4 linked regions of the Homo sapiens genome follow. The protein of the gene in region 2 purifies or fractionates together with the protein of the main gene of each other region. This does not show direct contact. Each region holds a gene or a part of one and is shown on either strand. Other genes may lie near its edges.

Region 1 (5,062 bases), on a different chromosome or scaffold from region 2:
ATTGATCCTTTTAGCAGTAAAAGCAGTCAGGTAGGGCCTGGAACTACTGGAACTTATGTCACTTTCCATCATAAGCAGCTTTGTCGCGTTTTTAAATAATCTATTTATTATTAATCTAATTGATTGACATTTTGTATTTTGGTTAAAAAAAACACACAGGCCAGGCGCGGTGGCTCACACCTGTAATCCCAGCACTTTGGGAGGCCAAGGCGGGCAGATCACGAGGTCAGGAGATCGAGACCATCCTGGCTAACACAGTGAAACCCCATCTCTACTAAAAATACAAAAAAAAAAAAAAAAAATTAGCCAGGCATGGTGGCAGGCACCTGTAGTCCCAGCTACTCGAGAGGCTGAGGGAGGAGAATGGTGTGAACCCGGGAGGTGGAGCTTGCAGTAAGCCAAGATGGCACCACTGCACTCCAGCCTGGGCGACAGAGCAAGACTCTGTCTCAAGAAAAAACAAACAAACAAACAAACAAACAAAAAAACATAAAATTTATCAACTTAACCATTTCTAAGTGGACAGTTCAGTAGTGTTAAGTGTACTCACACTGTTGTGAAAAAAAAAGATCTCCAGAACTTCATCTTGCAAATCTGAAACTCTGTATCATTAAACAATTCCCGTTCTCCCTTTCCTCAGCCTCTGGTAACCGCCATTCTATTTTTTGTTTCTATAAATGACTACTTTAGCTTCCTCATGTAAGTGGAATCATATAGTAGTTGTCTTTTTGTGACTGGAATATTTCACTTAGCATAATTTAACAAGGTTCATTCATGTTATAGCATGTGACATTTCTTTGATTTTAATGGCTAAACAGTATTCCATTGTGTGTATAATACCACATTTTGTTTATCCATTCATCCATCGATGGGCATTTGGGTTGTTTCCACCTCTTGGCTACTGTGAACTGTCTATGAACATGGGTGTGCAAACATCTCTTCAAGACCCTGCTTTCAATTCTGCTGTATATACACCTTGAAGTGATATTGCTGGATCATATAATTTTTTTAAAATTTTTTGAGGAACTCTTATTTTTTCCTTAATGGCTGTACCATCTTATCATCCCACCAACAATGCACAAAAGTTTATAATTCTCCACATCCTCACCATATCCTGATACTTTTTTTTTTTTATAGTAGCCATTTCTAATAGGTGTAACATTTCATTATGCTTTGGTTTGCATCACTCTGATGATTAGTGATGTTAAGCATCTTTTCATGTTCTTTTTGGTCATCTGTATATCATCCTTGAAGAAATGTCTACTTAAGTCCTTTGCTCATTTTAAATAGGGTTGATTTTTTGTTGTTGTTATTGAGTTGCAGGAATTCTTTATATATTCTGGATATTAATCCCATATCAGATACATGATTTGCAAATATTTTCTCCCATTTTGAAAACTGCCTTTTCACACTGTTGATTGTGTCCTTTGATGCACAAAGTTTTTAAGCTTAGTGTAGCCCCATTTGTCCACTTTTGCTTCTGCTGCCTATGCTTTTGGTGTCATATCCAAAAGCATGCAAGTCCAATGTCATGAAGCTTTTCTCCTATGTTTTATTCTAAAGTTTTACAGTGTTAGGTGCTGCATTTAGGTCTTTAATCTATTTAATTTTTGTATATGGTATAAGATAAGGATTCAATTTCATTCTTTTGCATATGGATAGCCATTTCCTCTAACATCATATATTCAAGAAGCTGTCTTTTCCCCCAAAGAATGCTCTTGGCACACTTGCTGAAGATCATCTTGACCATGTATGTGAGGGTTTACTTATCAGCTATCTATTCCATTCCATTGGTTTGTTTGTCTTTATGCCAGTATCATACAGTTTGGGTTATTACAGCTTTGCAATATGCTTTGAAATCAGAAAGTGTGAATCTTCTAACTTGTTTCTTCTTTTCCAAAATTGTTTTAGCTGTTTGGGGTCCATATCTCATTTTTCTTATGTACGCTATTATGCCAACAAAAAAAAGAAAAGACAAGACTGGGAATCACTGAGTCTTACAGGAGAATGACCTTCAAATTTTTTGTTCATATATGCCCCAAAAGAATTTTTTAGTATGTATCTCTTGCAAAAAATATGTAATTTCTGTTATACTATAAACATGTACATTTAAACATAAAACTATTATTACTTTTTAAAACTTAGTGGATTCTAAACACTATAGGGAAATGATACCCACCGACATCCATTAAAAAAAAATGCTGACCTTCTCAACAGTTTTTACAAGTCCTTTATTCTCCTTGAATACTTATTTCTATTCTACTTCCTCCACAGAATGCTATTCTAATAAACACAGATTTTTATTATTATCAGTACAAAACTCTCTCTGCAAAAAAGGATATGAATTAAGAAAACATTTTCCTGTGATAAGACTCTTAAGTATTAACATTTTTCTTCTTGCTTGAGTTATTACAATTATTTTATGTAAATAAGTGAGGAAAACAACATAAATATATCATAAATCTTGATAATTAAACAAAAAGTAAAATTTGGAAAACTAATAATAAAACGAATGGAGGAATTTACAACACTTTGATTAAAGGGGAGGTTTTTTTTACACCTTGAAGCAACTTACTATAATAAGACTACAAACGTGTCAGAGATAAAGTGGGAGAAGGCAGGGTGAGAAAGTAGGCACTTTCACAGGTACATGTGGAAAATGATTTACTTAAAATCATCTGTTCCCAAGCAACCTTTTATAAATTTCCATGATCCCAAGGTACTCTTACTTCAATCTAAAGACCCTGCTACTGAATAAAATCTAAACTCCTTCACCAACCTCTTCAATTTCACCTCTGAACACATCCCACCCTCCCACCACAATTTACTATTTGCAGCTTTCTGAATCCCATACTGTTTCACATCTGTTGTCTATTTTCTCTCCATCTGATGGACATCTTTAAACTATTAATGTGTAAATATCACCTCCTATATGAAGACTTTCTGGGTTTCCTGCATAGACTAGACCAACACTCCTTCATTCTCTCCCATCATGTGCCATATCATAGCATAACACCTCTAACAATCGTTTCACATACGTGTCTTCTTTTATTAGCTGAAAATTGCTTGAGGGACTTATTTTATTTATCTTTAAACTCATTTTGTGCTTAGAACATAGTAGATGCTCAATAAATACTACCTGAATGAAGAAACTGAAGAACACTCAAATCTCAATTTCCTCACTGGTAAAATTTTATCTGTATGATCCTCTTCCAATTTTAAAGAAACCCAGTAACTCTATATATTTTCTGAAATCTCTATAAATGTTCTATTTTCAGATTATTTTCTCTCCTAGTATGATCTCAAACTAGAGAAAATATTTTACTACATATAAAAAATAGAGTATTTTATATCATTTGTGATAGCCCATTATGCAAAGTGATTCTATGATTTTAGGTTATCCTAAATAAAGCACATTTTTCTCAGAGATTGCTTAAAAACATGAATTGATTATTTCAACATAATTCCCTACATGCTTTATATTCTGGTTGGTAAAAGAGGCAAGAAGGAAAACTATTCCACATTTTTAGTATGTCAATAAGAAATTATTTTACTATTAGGTAAATCAAGAAATCCACAATATTATAATACCCAAATTATCTCCAACTATTCTGGCTCTCCCTCTCTATTCATGTATTTATTTATTTATATATTTATTTATATTTTTGCCCAACCCAACTGTAAATTTCAGAAAGTTCTGGTCTAGGCATTGGAAATTATGTCACTATAGGTTAAATGGGGACCCATAAAGTGGGGACCTATACTCCACCCATCCCTGCAACTTCAAAGTAATAAACCAGGGAGAGTGGCTCATGCCTATAATTCTAGCACTTTGAGAGTCCAGGTGGGAGGATCACTTAAGCCCAGGAGTTCAAGACCTGCTTGGGCAACACAGCAAGACCCTATCTCAACAAAAACCAAAAAAATTATCTGGGCATGGTGCTGCATACTTGTAGTCCTAGCAACACAGGAGACTGAGGTGGGAGGATCCCTTGAATCCAGGAGTTTAAGGCTGCAGTGAGCTATGATCATGCCACTGCACTCTGGCCTGGGTGACAGAGTGAGGCCCTGTCTCTAAAAAACAAAAACAAAACAAACAAAAAAGCCACAAAGCAGTAAGACCAGACTTCATGTCTTAAGTAGATAGTATTTACTTTATAAAAACAAAATTTAACAGTTGTCATTAATGTAAACATTGGGAAAGGGTAGGGTTCAGCATCTTTTAAAGCTACAGAGGACAGTCTTCTTTTGTAATTAAATATACAAAGTAACATAAAGTCATACTTTGATAATTCAAATATAGAAGAGAGTGGTATCACTATATCTCTAGCAGCTGTCCACAGTAAAATAAAAGTACTTTTTTTTCTGTACAAATATCTTTATTTTCCTACTTAAAAAGAATCACGTACTCAGTCCAACAGCTTTACCAGGCTTGGCCAACCCAATAAGTTACACACTCACTCAGGTACTTGGAAGGTTATTGGACAGCTCCTTAACCGATCGAGTCAGCACAAAGTGGTCACTTTCCCCATAGCCAGACTCTGGATTTGCCTCCTGGGAGGACACCATGCCTGGCACAGACTGATGGGGTGGCTGCAGTCGAACCTTGCCTCCAGATTATGAACCAGTATAAGTAGCACAATTCTCGTGGCTACTTTCACTTCAGAGTGTCATGTTTATTGATGTGGAGCTTTCTGAGTAGGGAGGTTAAGGCACACCTGCTCAGTAAAACAAATATTTCTTTTAGTGTTCTAGATTGAGGGCAGCAGTCAATGGTAAAATAAATTTTGGTAGCATGTTCCTGAGAGGTTATACAGCAGCCCTGGCTCAAGGATTTCTCCCCCTGCACGATTCCTAAGAATACTTGCTAGTTGATTCTTTGTTTTGGCAATTTGATGGTTTTGATGAATTTGCTGTGATCCAGGGGTATTCAAGTACTTCTCTGAGCATTGGCCTCTGGCTGGGAACATGCTTCAACAGTCTTGAAATGAGGTCCCTGGCTCCCTCTGTTACAAAGTCAGGGAATGTGAATTCTCAACCCGTGATATTCTTTTGTAGGTCT
Region 2 (5,591 bases):
CCTTAGCTTAACAGGAGCTGACACTACTACCTTCAAACTGTCAGTTTGTCGTGTGATGCACAGAAACATATTGATCTTTTTTTTTTCTTCACTTTGTCCCAGTGCCAGACTTGAAGACTTGAAATTGTCATATTTAGGGATTAACCTGCCATTTTCACAGGTCTTTCTCACCCTCAACCATTTCTTTCTTTCTTTTTTTTTTTTTTTTTTGAGATGGAGTCTCACTCTGTTGCCCAAGCTGGAGTGCAGTGGCATGATCTTGGCTCACGGAAACTTCCGTCTCCCGGGTTCAAGCAATTCTCCTGCCTCAGCCTCCTAAGTAGCTGGGGTTACAGGCGCCCGCCACCACACCTGGCTAATTTTTGTATTTTTAGTAGAGACAGGGTTTCACCATGTTGGTCAGGCTGGTCTCAAACTCCTGACCTCGTGATCCGCCCGCCTCGGCCTCCCAAAGTGCTGGGATTACAGGTTTGAGCCACCATGCCCAGCCTCTTTCTTTTCTTTTCTTTTTTTTTTTTTTTTTTTTTTTTTGAGATGGAGTCTTGCTCTGTCTCCCAGGCTGGAGTGCAGTGGCGCGATCTCAGCTCACTGCAACCTCTGCCTTCCGGGTTCAAGCGATTCTTCTGCCTCCTCAGCCTCCCAAGTAGCTGGGACTACAGGTGGGTGCCACCATGCCCAGCTAATTTTTGTATTTTTAGTAGAGACAGGGTTTTACCATGTTGGCCAGGCTTGTCTCCAACTCCTGACCTCAAGTGATCCACCCGCCTCACCCTCCCAAAGTGCTGGGATTACAGGCATGAGCCATTGTGCCCAACCCCAATCATTTCTTTCATTCCCAATCCAGACATTTCTTACCTCACAGTCCCTGCTTGCAGTTCTCACCTGACCTTGGAGGCTGACTCTGGACATTCTGCTGATATTTTCTCCCACTATCCTGCTCAGGTGGTGGTTTAAGTGCTCCACAGCAAAAACAGCAGCAACAACAGAAACAGCAACAAGTGAGCAGAGTACACAGGATGACAAGTGTCTAAAAGGTAGGCGAGAATGGCCTCAGTCCAGCAGTTTTCTATATGACTGCTCAAGCTTCCCTCCCTCAATCCTCCTGGCACCCAGAAAATGAGACAACAGAAGCATTTGTCATAAGGAAAGGAAGGTCACCCTTCTTTCCTTATTCTTAAAGGACCTGGAGAATTGTGTACCTTGAACCAACAACTATTCAGAATAAAATAGTATCTGACGCCTTCTTCACCAAAGTGATCATACAGATATATTCCCAATGAGCCATGCTGGTCGTAAATTTTCCGCTTCTTAGAGTCGCTCAGTATGGCATGAGCTGCGTTGATCTCTTTGAATATTTCTGCTGCTTGAGCATTCCCTGGATTCTTGTCGGGATGATACCGCAAGGCCAGTTTCCTACCCAGGTGATACTCAAAAGGAGGGTGGGGAAGCAATGCGGAATGGCTGGGGAAGGAGACTTACGATGAATGACATGGATTAGTCTCTAGAGAGTGCAGAAGGAATGCATGAGATGTGGTACAAAGGATGGAGGCAAGCATCCAAGGTCTAAACTCCTTCCCATACTATAATGAAGAGGGTGATGGTGCCATTTGGCCCCAAAGTGAGGGCTTGTTGGAACTTAAAAATGGGTCATAGGGCTGGGAGCACTGGCTCACACCTGTAATCCCAGCGCTTTGGGAGGCCAAGGTGGGCGGATCATGAGGTCAGGAGTTTGAGACCAGCTTGGCCAACATGGTGAAACCCTGTCTCTACCAAAAATACAAAAGATTAGCTGGGCATAGTGGCAGGCACCTGTAATCCCAGCTACTCGGGAGGCTGAGGCAGGAGAATCACTTCAACCCGGAAGGTGGAGGTTGCAGTGAGCCGAGACTGCACCACTGCACTACAGCTTGGGCAACAGAGCGAGACTGTCTCAAAACAAACAAACAAACAAACAAACAAACAAACGGGTCGTAGGCCAGGCACAGTGGTTCACACCTGTAATCCCAGCACTTTGGGAGGCCGAGGCAGGTAGATCACCTGAGGTCAGGAGTTTGAGACCAGCCTGGCCAACATGGCGAAACCCTGTCTCTACTAAAAATACAAAAATTAGCCAGGCGTGGTGGTGCACGCCTGTAGTCCCAGCTTCTCAGGAGGCTGAGGTGAGAGAATTGCTTGAACCTGGGAGGCAGAGGTTGCAGTAAGCCAAGATCGTGCCACTGCACTCTCAATAGTCTCTGTCTCTGCTCTGTGACAGGACGAGACTTCCTCTCAAAAAAAAAAAAAAAAAAAAAGAGTCAGATAGCAAAAGAGATACAGAAAGAAAAAGGTTTAAGGGGGAAATTCCAAGGATCAATAAAGGGCTGAGGTCTGAACCTGTAGGATTTTTTGAAGTCTTCAGGTGAGGCGCCCTTCTTAAGATCCAGCACTGCATAGAGGCTCATCTCACTTTTGGACAGCCGGTGTGCTGCTTCCTTCACAGTAGACATGATCTGAGCCAGAGGAGAAGCAGCATCTGTGAGAACTTCTACAAGTAAGGGTACCGAGAAGTGCACTTCCAGTGACAGGAAACTCACTACCTTCAGGGATTAGGCAGGTAAACGATGACAGAAGGACAAGGATAAGATAAGAGTGAGTGGGATTTGTGGCTAGCAGGAGAATTCAGGTGATCAGAAAGATTCCAATTTTAAGGAGGAAACATCTTCTCCTCACATTTCCCAGCATCCTCCAGCTACACAGACCTCTAGATATCCCACATCCTAGAGGTGTTGTAAGCAGGGAGAGGTCTAAGCCAGGAAAAGAGCCTGATTTTGTCTAGAGCTCCTATTACCTGGAGTAAACACCTCTGGGTCTGTCCAAGCTCACTGCTGGGTTTGAAAGACCAGGGCGGCCCCAGCCTGAACGGACAGGATCAGGAATCAGACAGCTCCACAACTTCTTCTTCTTTTTTTTTTTTTTGACGGAGTTTTTTGCTCTTGTTGCCCAGGCTGAAGTGTAATGGCGCGATCTCGGCTCACTGCAACCTCCACCTCCTGGGTGCAAGCGATTTTCCTGCCTCAGCCTCCCGAGTAGCTGAGATTACAGGTGCACGCCACCACGCCCGGCTAATTTTCTGTGTTTTTAGTAGAGACAGAGTTTCACCATGTTGGTCAGGCTGTTCTTGAACTCCTGACCTCAGGTGATCCACCCACCTCGGCCTCCCAAAGTCCTGAGATTACAGGCGTGAGCCATTGAGCCTCGCCGATCCACAGCTATTAAGAGAGAAACACTTCAGACCAAACCGTGTGAGGCCTAACAGAAGTCAAGTGTCCTAGAGCCTGGCGGGGGCGGGGGCGGGGGCGGGGGCGGGGGTGGGGAGTGCTTGCAGCTAGGCCTGGACTTGCTTCTTCCCTCCAGTCTCCTGCTCTCAAACCACCCCACTTCTGTCCCTCAGAGGTGGGACAGTGGGGAGAGGAGGAAGAGGACTCAGAGGCTGGAGAAGGAAGAGAAAAGGCGTTGCTGTGGGAAAGACCTGGCAAGGAAAAGGCAGCGGAACCCCAGAGAGCAGGGTAGACGCCTGCGGCCCAGGAGAACCGAGCAAGGCAAGGAGCTCAAAGGGAGAGCTCTGAGTGTGCAGGGCACCTCTGGCCCTGTGCCGACTCCTCACCTGGGTCTGGCCCTTTACCTGGGAGTCGTTCTCTTAAGCCAGGTGGGTGCCCTTCATCCTTTTGGGTGTGAAACTTCACACCGGCCGGGTCCAGCAGTTGACTGCGCTTGTGCGCAGCGTCGACGCTGAGGGTCTGGGCAGGTCGTTTTTTGGCGCCCCCGGAAGCACTGGGTGGGGAGGCCACATTGGCCCTGGGACTTATTTCGCGCGCAGGGAAGCGAGAGCGGAGGGCTTAGCAGGCCTGCGGCCCAAGGCAGCGTAGGAGCGTTGCTGCCAGGCCTTGGGGCAGGGATTCCCACCGAGCCCCTCTTCCCCAGCAGGAGGGCACCACCCATCTTGATGGCCCAACTCACTCCAGGAAACACAATGGGTTTGCTGACCGTGGCGGATGAGAGGTATGGCTGCTGCATGCCCTTCTTAAGAGGTGTGTTACCTTCCCAGTTGTCTTCAGGACTTAGGGCTCTCCGCTTGGTCCCTCCTTCTCTTCCACCCGGAAACACCTCCACAACCTGGAAGACCCAACTCATATGCCCCTGTTCCTGACACTCCATCATTCACTCTCCCAGTTGTTCCCACTTCGTCTGTCAAAGCATTTCTCCTAGTATATCGTAATGATGAGTTTGCACGTCTCATTAAAATGATGTATTGAGCCTTTTCCAAAAGTCACTACCGTGCTTCAAAAACGTCACTTAAATATGATGCCATCATGAGCATGTCCCATAATGTAACCCAACTTGGCTGTTTCAGTTGTTTCTATTTGATAATATAATAACCTTATAAGGAAAATTCAACAGAAATCCTTGAACAAATGTCTAATTTTTTTTCCTAAGGATACATTCTTAGAAGTGGAATTATTGGGTCGAAATGATTTTTTTTTTCTTTTTTCTTTTCTTTTTTTTTTACGCTCTTGATCTCTATTGCTAACTTTCTTCTGGAAAGGTAGCAGAAGGAGGATTTGTATCCCCACCTGCTGGCATGGGAGCATGCCTCTACCTGGCTTCCCTTCCTGTGAGTTTCTACAGGAGGTAGTGTTTGCATCACTTATAATTTACTACTTTGTAGTGCTGGTTTTCTTTGCAAGAGCACTCAATGGCTCCTGTAACATGTAGTAGAAAAAGCTTTGTTACTTGGAAAATGCTTATCTGTTAACCTTTTTGTAGCTTTTATCACTCTCTTCCTTTTATTACAGTTATTTGTGCACATTTTCCTCACCTTGTAGGTTTTTTTTGTTTGTTTTGTTGTGTTTTGAGGTGGAGTCTCACTCTGTCACACAGGCTGGAGTGCAGTGGCACAATGTCTGCTCACTGGAACCTCTGCCTTCCGGGTTCAAGTGATTCTCCTGCTTCAGCCTTCCAAGTAGCTGGGATTACAGGTGCCTGCCACCACGCCTGGCTAATTTTTTTTGTATTTTTAGTAGAGACGGGGTTTCACCATGTTGGCCAGGCTGGTTTCGAACTCCTGACCTCAGTGATCTACCCGCCTCAGCCTCCAAAAGTGCTGGGATTACAGGCGTGAGCCATTGCGCCAGCCCCCTTGAAGGCGTGAGCCATTGTGCCAGCCTCCTTGAAGCCATTGCGCCAACCCCCATTGCGCCAGCTCCTTCGAAGGTCACTCACCAAAAAAGAAGCTGAAGCTGATAATGTTTTTTGGTGGTTTGTCTCATGCCAAATTTCTTTAACCCCCAAGCTTTCATGACTCATGGGAGGACAGAACTAGCAGAACAAACCAGCTCATTTCTTCCCCAGCACTGGGTAGAGAGAGCAGAAGGCATTAGAGGTGCACTTGTAAATCAGTATTCCACCTCAAGAACCATCTAAGCAAACGAACTAAGGAGTCCATCTGTAGCAGACGTGATGACTGCTGAATTAATGAATTTATTTCTGTAGGCCTGTGGTCAGTGCAGGGAGAGGGGATGAAGACCTTTGCATTACCCACCTGGTCCATAGTC
Region 3 (5,602 bases), on a different chromosome or scaffold from region 2:
CCGCTGCTCAGCCTGACACAGAGGTGGGACTGGCCCAGAGAAGAGAGATGGCAAATGGATGGAGGAGGGACTGGGTGTGAGGGTGGAGCAACTTATGATCTCAGTCTGGAAAGGCAGAAGCCAAGAGGGCATTTGACTAGAGCTTAAACAGCAAGAACAAACACGTGACCATGGGGCAGCCCCTAAAGCTTCAAAAGGCACAGGCAAGGAGGCCCCACTTTACACAGTGAATAACAAATTAAACATCCTGGCAGGCTGTACAAGCCAAAACCAGAAATGGAGTGTTCAAGAAACACACAATGACTGATTGAAGGACGGCAGGGATATATGAGGCACAAAGTCCACCAAGATTTGATTTCCTGAGGACAGTTATCCCAGAACTAGCGTCAGGGACAACGTGCTAGGTGAGTGTGGCACTTACTAGGGAAAAAAAGTGAAGTTCAAAACATTCCATTTCTCTCTTTGGCCCTTACCAGTTCAACTATCCCATTTACAACCAATAGCTCATGTGGACAGCATATGCTAGAAACAGTATCCCCTGGAAAAGGGCAAGCCATAATTTCCCCTTTGTGCTCAAATGTATTCCTCACAACAGGGTCCTCACTGGTGAATTCATTCATTCATGCATTCATTCATTCAACCAATATTTCCTGTGTACCTACTCTGTGCCAGGCACCGTTCTAGATGCAAGGGGGCAATCAGTGATCATAACATAAAAATCCCTGACCTCATGGAGCTTACATGGGGCAAACATGCATGTAATATCTAGCATGCCGGATTGTTAAGAGCTATACAGGAAAATCAAGCAGGGTGAACGGAATAGAGAACATGGATTTAATTTGAAATAGGTGGCCAGAGAAGCTCTCATTAATAAAGTAACATATATGAGTAAAAACCAGAAGAAGTGAGCCATGGGGGTATCTGGGGGAAAACTGTTTCAGTTAGAGGAATCAGCAGGAGAAAAGGCTAAAAGCGGGGAGTGTATGCAACATTCAAGGAAAACTGAAAAAGCCAGAGTAGTTAGCACAGAGCAAGGCAGCAGAGAGTGGCGAGAGAGAAGGACAGGGACATATTGGGGCCCACTATGGGCTGAGAAGTTCTCAGATGGGTAAGGGTGGAGGGAACGGGGGCTAAGCATTGACGGTGTTGGTGGGGAGAAGTGGTGGTCCCCCTTTGGGAATAATTTTAAGGTAGAAATGATAGTATTTGCTGTGCAGTATGAGAAAGAGGGAAACCAGGGGTGACTTCAAGGTTTGGGGCCAGAAGAATTCAAAGAATGGACCTGCCTAACTAACTACAATGGGTGAAAGACCATGGGATGGGCAGGTGTAGTGGGGGAGATAAGGATTTTGTTTTGGAAACGCTCTAGACTTACCTATGACACATCCAAATGGAGATGTCGAAATGTGATGCTGGACATGAGTCCTGAGTTCAAGAAGCTATGTGGGCTCAGGATGTAAATACATAAAATATGTCATACTGATTCCCACTTACCCAGTCCCTCTGTAACTAGATCTCATGAGTTGGAATGCTGCAACCCTCCATGGGCTCCTTTATCTTAAAAAAAGAGATGTAGCAGCCGGGTGCGGTGGCTCACGCCTGTAATCCCAGCACTTTGGGAGGCCGAGGCGGGCAGATCACGAGGTCAGGAGATGGAGACCATCCTGGCCAACATGGTGAAACCCCGTCTGTACTAAAAACACAAAAATTAGCTGGGTGTGGTGGTGCGCGCCTGTAATCCCAGCTACTCGGGAGGCTGAGGCAGGAGAATCACCTGAACCCGGGAGGCGGAGATTGCAGTGAGCCGAGATGGCGCCACTGCACTCCAGCCTGGCTACAGAGCTAGACTCCGTCCCAAAAAATAAAATAGAATAAAATGGCCAAGAATCAGGGAGAGAACCTGTGCTGCTGCCTGTACAGATGCCCAGCGCCCGCCCAACACCACACAGAATCAGAATCTGCAGGGACTGAGCACCCGTGGTCTGGCATCTGAAGCCAGGCCATCTTGGTTCACATCCCTGCTCCTTCCCAGCTGTGTGACACGCCTTGGATAAGCGACTTAACCACGTTGACTCAGTCTCCTCATCAAGTGAATGGGGCTAACAGTATCTATACCTCCTACCAGGGAAAACAGTATGTCAAGACTTTGCACCACACCTGGTAACTACCCTAAATGCTCCACAAGACCAAGCACTTCCTATCATCATTCATTCATTACTGCAATTCGGTAGGGAAAACCCTCCAGTCACAGGGAGCACCGAATGGGGGAATCAGAGCCAGACAGGTAGAGAGCTTGCCTGCATTTGTGCAACTAGAAAAGGGGGGGAGCTAAAAATAGGCCTCAGAAGTCTTGAAGCTACAGCGATGGCAACACGACTATGGATGGAAGCAGACATCAGCCTTATGGTGCCTTCTCGGGGGATCTGGAAGTGTAACCTTGTCAAAAACACTCAGGTGGGCTGTCAGCGCTCCACAGAGGAGGGACTCGCACGGTCTCTTGTCTGGAAGTGCAGCAAAAAGGGCCAAAGAGCAGCCAGGGTTTTCGGCGGCCCAGATCCTGCGGCGGGGCCTAAATGAGGGGGAGACGAAGCGCCCCGAAGGATCCGGGGGGAACTGGCGGGAAGTGGGGGCCGAAGTTCGGGGCGGGGACGGGGTGAAAACGGCCTGGGCTTCCTCCGTCCGCGGTGTGCGGCTGGCCCGCGGAGGACGAGGGCCTCACGGGCTTAGGAGATAGGCAGCCAGGCCGGGGAAGGGGAGATGCCGGGTGGCGGAGGACGAGGGGGCGGGGAGGGAGCGTGGCGCGCTCCGGGCCACAACCAGGCCCTAAGGTCTATTTACATCCGTGGCCGAAGCACTGGGGCCGCGCCTCCCGCCCCCTTCAGCCCCGAGCTTGGCTGCGACGCAGAGGGGCCTTAGGGCTGCGATCCCGATGGCCACCCGGCTCCTCTAGCCAGACGGCTGCAGTGGCTGGGGTTGCCGGGAGTGATGGGCCGGGCCGGTGAGCCCGGCCTGAGGGGACGCAATAGGGGGCGGCTGCAAGGCCCGCCACGGCGCTAGCCTGGAGCGGACGAAACCCTTGCACTCTGCGGTGCTCCCCCCAAGGGCTTGTGGCCCCTAGTCCTCCCGCCGCCCGTTCCCCGGCCGCCAGCCGGTCCCCAACGGCGCCTCCCCTACCTTCGTTCGCCAGGTCCGCCATTTTACTTCCTTAAGCCCTCCCACAAGGCCCCGCGCCGGCCCAGGCTCGCCTGCTTTCTGCCAGAAACTCCCGCGCGTGCGCACTTAACAAGCCGACTCCGTGTGAGGCGGCCAGCTCGCGCCTGCGCGCTGAATGCCGCGCGGAGGCGAGCCCCGGATCGCCTGCCCTGCAGAGCAGCCTGCCCTGACGAGCCGCGCTCCTAGCACGCACCTGCGCACGAGCCATCTCCCGCCTCCTTTTCCCGCCGACTGAGAGGGCGGGGAAAGGGCCGGGAAGGGCGCATGCGCAGTGGCAGCGACTAAGGTTTAGTGAGGCGGCACCGCGCGGCCCGAGGCGGGTCTTGAAGCACTCGTTTTCCCACTCGTTTTCCGGGGTTCCCCCGCGGTGGGACAGTGAGCAGTTCAGGGCGCCGCAGCCGAGGCCTTCCTCCAGGTAAATCGCCGGGCCTGCGGGGGCTTCCCACACGCGCGGGCGGGAGACGCGTTGCCTCCTACCTCAGTTTACCCGCCTTAGGAGCCGGTACCTTCGGCAAACGCTTTCCTGAAACCACGGGGGAAGTGGCGAGAGGGCGCGGGGTGCTTGGGATTGGGGGGTAAATCAGAGCTCATCGGCGGGGGCGGGGGTCGTGGTCAGGCTCTAGGAGGGGGCGCAGCCCTGGGACCCAGGTGCTGGCGTTGGGGGCGGGGGGAGCCGGCGCGAGGGACTCGACCCCTCGGAGCTACGAGAATCAACTTCACAAGCTCATGGGAGGGGAACCGCGCGCCTCCAGGTTACCCATCTGTAAAATGGGACCATCAGCCTCACTCACAAGGCTCATGGGAGGGTCCTGGACACCCTGGAGTTGTTCTCTACTCACCTGCTATGAATCTCTCAGCAAATCCTTCGGACTTGGCCTTGCCTCCAAAATACAGCCCAGAGCCACCCATTGTCACCCCCAGGCTGTCACCACCCTAGGCCACATCGTCCGTATCTATCTCATGGAAGACTTGGACAGCGGCCTCTCTGCTATCCTTTGCTGCATTCTTTTGAAGCCCCAGGCTTGGTTCTGCACATGGCCGCAGGCTGAGGAGTCTTTGAAAAATATAATCAGCCAGACGCGGTAGCTCACCCCTGGAATCCCAGCACTGCGGGAGGCCAAGGTGGGAGGATCGCTTGAGCTCAGTTCAAAACCAGCCTAGGCAACAGAGCAAGACCCCATCTCTACAAAAACACAAAAATTACCCGGATGTGGTGGTGCAAGCCTGTGGTCCCAGCTACTTGGGAGGCTGAGGCAGGAGGATCACTTGAGCCCAGGAGGTTGAGGCTGCAGTGAGCTGTGACAGTGCCACTGCCACCATCCTAGGGACACAGCAAGAACCTCCCCCATATATATACACATATATACTTTGTTTTTATCTATATATATACACACAGATATATACATACACGTGTGCATATATATGTGTGTGTGTGTATATATATATATATACACATAGACTGAAAATGGAAATATCAAGGCCACTCAGTGCTTCCAGAGGGCTCTCAGCTGAACTTGGAATATCCTAAACCTTGTATTCAGGTTTATGAAGTCCCCTGAACTTGGCTCCCATGCCCTGCTTTGTTCCCCCTTGCTCATTGCTGTTCAGCCGCGTGGGTCTTTCCATCCTTGGAGCACAAGCTCATTCCAACCTAAGGGTCTTTGCACTTGGTCGTCTCTCTGCCTGGGACCTTGTGTTTCAGGTCTTACCTAGGTTGGAGTCCCAGCTCTGCACCTTTTTGAGTATGATCTAAAAGAGAGCGAGGAGTACTACAATCTGTGGGCCAGATATAGTCTATGAGCTAAAAATGGTTCCTCCCTCCCTCCCCTTGTTCCCTCCCTCCCTTTCCTTCCCTTCCCTTTCTTTTATTTATTTTGGAATCTAACTCTGTTGCCCACGCTGGAGTGCAGTGGTACAATTTCGACTCACTACAACCTCCGCCTCCCGGGTTGAAGTGATTCTCCTGCCTCAGCCTTCTGAGTAGCTGGCATTACAGCTGTGTACTACTATACCCAGCTAGTTTTTGTGTTTTTTTGTGGAGACAGGGTTTCACCATGTTGGCCAGGCTGCTCTCGAACTTCTGACCTCAGGTGCTCTGCCCACCTTGGCTTCCCAAAGTGCTGGGATTACAGGCATGAGCCACCGCGCCTGCCGATTTTTTTACATTTTTAGCTGGTTGGGAAAAAAAATACCAAAAGAAGAATATCTATTGATGTGAAAATGGTGTGAAATTTACATTTCAGTGTCTGTAAATAAAGTTTTATTTGAAAACAGCCAATGCTTACTCATTTATATATTGTCTCTGGCTACTTTTGAGCTGTGACATTAGAGCTAATTTTTTTTTTTAACAGAAACTTTTTGGCCAACAAAACTTAAAGCATTTACTGTT
Region 4 (5,062 bases), on a different chromosome or scaffold from region 2:
TTAGAACTCAGGTTTAAGAAATCCACTCAAAAATGCACAACTACTTGGAAACTGAACAACCTGCTCCTGAATGCCTACGGGGTAAATAACAAAAATAAGGTAGAAATAAATAAGTTCTTCGAAACCAATGAGAAAAAAGACACAACATACCAGAATCTCTGGGACACAGCTAAAGCAGTGTTTAAGGGGAAATTTATAGCACTAAATTCCCACAGGAGAAAGCAGGAAAGATCTAAAATCGACACCCTAACATCACAATTAAAAGAAGTAGAGAAACAAGAGCAAACAAATTCAAAACCTAGAAGACAAGACATAACTAAAACACAGCAGAACTGAAGGAGATAGAGACACGAAAACCCTTCAAAAAAACCAATGAATCCAGGAGCTAGTTTTTTGAAAAGATTAACAAAATAGATAGACTGCTAGCCAGACTAATAAAGAAGAAAAGAGAGAAGAATCAAATAGACACAATAAAAATTGATAAAGGGGATATCACCACCGATCCCACAGAAATACAAATTACCATCAGAGAATACTATAAACACCTCTATGAAAATAAACTAGAAAATCTAGAAGAAATGGATAAATTCCTGGACACATACACCCTCCCAAGGCTAAATCAGGAGGAAGTGGAATCCCTGAATAGACCAATAACATGTTCTGAAATAGAGGCAGCAATAGCCTACCAACCAAAAGAGAAGCCCAGGACCAGACAGATTCACAGCCAAATTCTACCAGAGGTACAGAGAGGAGCTGATACCACTCCTTCTGAAACTATTCCAAACAATAGAAAAAGAGGGACTCCTCTCTAACTCATTTTATGAGGCCAGCATCATCCTGATACCAAAACCTGGCAGAGACACAACAAAAAAAGAAAATTTCAGGCCAATATCCCTGATGAACATCAATGCGAAAATCGTCAATAAAAAACTGGCAAAACAAATCCAGCAGCACATCAAAAAGCTTATTCACCACAATCAAGTTGGCTTCATCCCTGGGATGCAAGGCTGGTTCAACGTAATCCATTACATAAACAGAACCAATGACAAAAACCACATGATTATCTCAATAGATGCAGAAAAGGCCTTTGATAAAATTCAACACCCCTTCATGCTAAAAACTCTCAATAAACTAGGTATTGATGGAACATATCTCAAAATAATAAGAGCTATTTATGACAAACCCTCAGCCAATATCATACTGAATGGGCAAAAGCTGGAAGCATTCCCTTTGAAAACCGGCACAAGACAAGGATGCCCTCTCTCACCAATCCTATTCAACACAGTATTGGAAGTTCTGGCCAGGGCAATCAGGCAAGAGAAAGAAATAAAGCGTATTCCAATAGGAAGAGAGGAAGTCAAATTGTCTCTGTTTGCAGATTAACATCACTGTCTATTTAGAAAACCCCATCATCTCAGCCCAAAATCTCCTTAAGCTGATAAGCAACTTCAGCAAAGTCTCAGGATACAAAATCAATGTGCAAAAATCACAAGCATTCCTATATACCAATAATAGACAAACAGAGAGCCAAATTGTGAGGGAACTCCCATTCACAATTGCTACAAAGAGAATAAAATACCTAGGAATCCAACTTACAAGGGATGTGAAGGACCTCTTCAAGGAGAACTACAAACCACTGCTCAAAGAAATCAGAGGGGACACAAACAAATGGAAAAACATTCCATGCTCATGGATAGGAAGAATCAATATCATAAAAATGGCCATACTGCCCAAAGTAATTTACAAGATAATCCTAAGCAGAAAGAACAAAGCTGGAGGCATCACACTACCTGACTTCAAACTATACTACATGGCTACAGTAATCAAAACAGCATGGTACTGGTACCAAAACAGATATATAGACCAATGGAACAAAACAGAGGCCTCAGAAATAACACCACACATCTACAGCCATCTGATCTTTGACAATCCTAACAAAAACAAGCAATGGGGAAAGGATTCCGTATTTAATAAATGGCATTGGGAAAACTGGCTAGCCATATGCAGAAAACTGAAATTGGACCCCTTCTTTACACCTTATACAAAAATTAACTCAAGATGGATTAAAGACTTCAACGTAAGACCTAAAACCATAAAAACTCTAGAAGAAAACCTAAGCAATACCATTCAGGATATAGGCATGGGCAAAGACTTCTTGACTAAAACATCAAAAGCAATGTCAACAAAAGCCAAAATTGACAAATGGGATCTAATTAAATTAAAGAGCTTCTGCAGAGCAAAAGAAACTATCATCAGAGTCAACAGGCAACCCACACAATGGGAGAAAATTTTTGCAATCAATCCATCTGACAAAGGGCTAATATCCAGAATCTACAAAGAACTTAAATTTACAAGAAAAAAACAAACAACCCCATTGAAAAGTGGGCAAAAGATAGGAACAGATATTTCTCAAATGAAGACATTTATGCAGCCAACAAACATGAAAAAAAGCTCATCATCACTGGTCATTATAGAAATGCAAATTAAAACCACAATGAGAAACTATCTCACGCCAGTTAGAATGGCAATCATTAAAAAGTCAGGAAACAACAGATTCTGGAGAGGATGTGGAGAAATAGGAACGCTTTTATGTTGTTGTTGGGAGTGTAAATTAGTTCAACCATTGTGGAAGACAGTGTGGCGATTCCTCAAGGATCTAGAACCAGAAATACCATTTGACCCAGCAATCCCATTACTGGGTACATACCCAAAGGATAATAAATCATTCTACTATAAAGACACATGCACACGTAGGTTTATTGTAGCACTGTTCACAATAGCAAAGACTTGGAACCAACTTAAATGCCCATCAATGACAGACTGGATAAAGAAAATGTGGCACATATACACCATGGAATACTATGCAGCCATAAAAAAGGACACGTTCATGTCCTCTGCAGGGACATGGATGAAGCTGGAAACCATCACTCTCAGCAAACTAACACAGGAACAGAAAACCAAACACCGCATGTTCTCACTCATAAGTGGGAGTTGAACAATGAGAACATATGGACACAGGGAGGGGAACATCACACACTGGGGCCTGTTGGGGGATGGGGGCCTAGGGGAGGGATAGCATTAGGAGAAATGCCTAATGTAGATGATGGGTTGATGGGTGCAGCAAACCACCATGACGTGTATACCTACATAACAAACCTGCACATTCTGCATATATATCCCAGGACTTAAAGTATAATTTAAAAAAAAAAATGAAAAAAGAAATGATGCTTCTCCTTTTAATATCCACTGGTGAAAATAATGTTCCATTAAACATCTATAATGTTTAACTTTGTCTAGCATAATTCAAAGCTTTTGTCTGCAAGAAGAAACTGGCCTTTAAATTCACCTGTTAAAAATAACTCGAACAATTTTTAGACTGTTATACTTTCAGTATTTTCTGACTTTGCGATTTTAATAAATACCTACCTGTTTCTTCAGATATGTTCTTCCATCTATAAATATACTAGGCTGACTCTGGGCACACTGCTTAGGACTTAGCCCTGCTCCACAAGGAGCAGAAAATGAAAACAAAAAACTCAAGTTCATGAAAAACTTTCAACTCCAAATTTATCATCTGACATGGCCTCCAACACCCTCTGCTACATGGCCATTACTTAACCCTCCAGCCTCATTTCTTTTTAATCCATACCCTTCCTTCTGGGCAGGCTAAAATGTGTATAGTTACCTATATTCACGTTCTCTTGCCTTAGGACATACAGTCCTCTGTCTGGAACATCCTCTGGTCCCCACCCCTCCCCCTCCTTCTTCCACCTACCTAACTTTTACTTAAGAAACAAACTAGATATCACCTTCTTTAGAAAGCCTTGCCCAACCCTGTGATGCTGGGTTTGGTGCTACTCACCCCACTATTAATATCCATCTATACTGTAATTTATCATTTATTGTTTATTTTTCCCAAATGAGGTAAATTCTTGGGTCAGAGACTATGCTTTATTCTGTTTTAACCCAAGGCCCTGCCACACAGACAGTGGCAACTCAAAAATCTGTACAATAAATTAATTAATGAATGCCACAGGACAGGTGTTAGTTAATAATTAAGGCAACTTGGGAGAAAATACCAACACCACTTCTGTAGACTTTTGTGTTTGTTCTGAAATACAGTGTTGGTACTACAAATTAAAAATAAAAAATTTCCCCCAATATATGTGTAGATGGCAAAATGAACTTCCATAAAAATACCTGTATGCTCTGGGGAGAAATTCTGAAAAACAGATTATTTTTCAAAATTACACTACAAGTAATGAATAATTAATACCACTATCTTTGCAAGAGGTTATGTGAAGGTTACAATTCCCCTAACTAGATTACCAAGAATAGTTTCCCCACTTTCCTCTCCAAACAGGAACTCAAAAGATATAAAGATTTGATGGTAGGAATACAAAAATACAAAGATCACATTCATCCCTTCCTAATAATCCCTGATCTGAATTCCAGACATATCTCAATTGTTTCAATACTTTACTGGGGATAGAAAAATCCTACATCATTTCTTTATGTTTTGCAAAATACATTTATCCATATGAAAAGATAAAGCAATTAAAAATACCTGAAACTGGAGCTGCTTTATTTAACAATCCAACATCTTCCTCAAACTCTGAAGCAAACACTGATGAAGGCAACTTAATTCCAGTGCTCTTGAAAAAGAAATTGCACAATGGTTAGGTTTATTTGGAAATTCTTCTTAACTAGTGTACCGGGTTGAAGTCCCCCCCAAATCAATGTCCATCCAGAACCTTAGACTGACCATATTTGAAATAGGGTCCTCTCAACTATAATAAGATGAGGTCTTACTGGACCATGGTCCTATAACGAGACCACATGAAGACAGAGACTCACAGGGGAGAATGCCATGTGCAGATGACAGCAGACTGGAGTGAGGCCTCTATAAGGCAAGGAATTCCAAGGAATGATCACCGGTAACCTTCGGAAGTTAGGAATGAGCCATTCAACAGCCTCTCCCTCTAAGCCCCCAAGAAAAAAACCAAACCTGCTGATACCTTCATCTCAAACTTCTGACCTCCAGAACCATGAAGGAAGAAAT

The links.
Region 1: the proteins of DNAJC5G (region 2) and RAB3GAP2 purify together in Homo sapiens (affinity purification with mass spectrometry, with the first as the bait; one large-scale study listed by BioGRID). This does not show direct contact.
Region 3: the proteins of DNAJC5G (region 2) and RANBP3 purify together in Homo sapiens (affinity purification with mass spectrometry, with the first as the bait; one large-scale study listed by BioGRID). This does not show direct contact.
Region 4: the proteins of DNAJC5G (region 2) and LTV1 purify together in Homo sapiens (affinity purification with mass spectrometry, with the first as the bait; one large-scale study listed by BioGRID). This does not show direct contact.

Annotation. Positions count from the first base shown.
Region 1 is NC_000001.11:220,261,850-220,266,911, forward strand, and holds part of RAB3GAP2 (rab3 GTPase-activating protein non-catalytic subunit), read right to left. Parts: exon of another isoform or gene 4,330-5,062; intron 1-4,329. UniProt on the Homo sapiens protein: Regulatory subunit of the Rab3 GTPase-activating (Rab3GAP) complex composed of RAB3GAP1 and RAB3GAP2, which has GTPase-activating protein (GAP) activity towards various Rab3 subfamily members (RAB3A, RAB3B, RAB3C and RAB3D), RAB5A and RAB43, and guanine nucleotide exchange factor (GEF) activity towards RAB18.
Region 2 is NC_000002.12:27,273,624-27,279,214, reverse strand, and holds the start of DNAJC5G (dnaJ homolog subfamily C member 5G), read right to left. Parts: upstream 3,783-5,591; 5' UTR 3,662-3,782; exon of another isoform or gene 3,398-3,661; intron 3,110-3,397; 5' UTR 2,828-3,109; intron 2,525-2,827; exon of another isoform or gene 2,490-2,524; 5' UTR 2,487-2,489; coding exon 2,374-2,486; intron 1,462-2,373; coding exon 1,200-1,461; intron 1,028-1,199; coding exon 883-1,027; intron 1-882.
Region 3 is NC_000019.10:5,974,887-5,980,488, forward strand, and holds the start of RANBP3 (ran-binding protein 3), read right to left. Parts: upstream 3,255-5,602; 5' UTR 3,197-3,254; coding exon 3,175-3,196; exon of another isoform or gene 1,495-3,174; intron 1-1,494. UniProt on the Homo sapiens protein: Acts as a cofactor for XPO1/CRM1-mediated nuclear export, perhaps as export complex scaffolding protein. Bound to XPO1/CRM1, stabilizes the XPO1/CRM1-cargo interaction. In the absence of Ran-bound GTP prevents binding of XPO1/CRM1 to the nuclear pore complex.
Region 4 is NC_000006.12:143,849,724-143,854,785, reverse strand, and holds part of LTV1 (protein LTV1 homolog), read right to left. Parts: intron 4,656-5,062; coding exon 4,568-4,655; intron 1-4,567. UniProt on the Homo sapiens protein: Essential for ribosome biogenesis.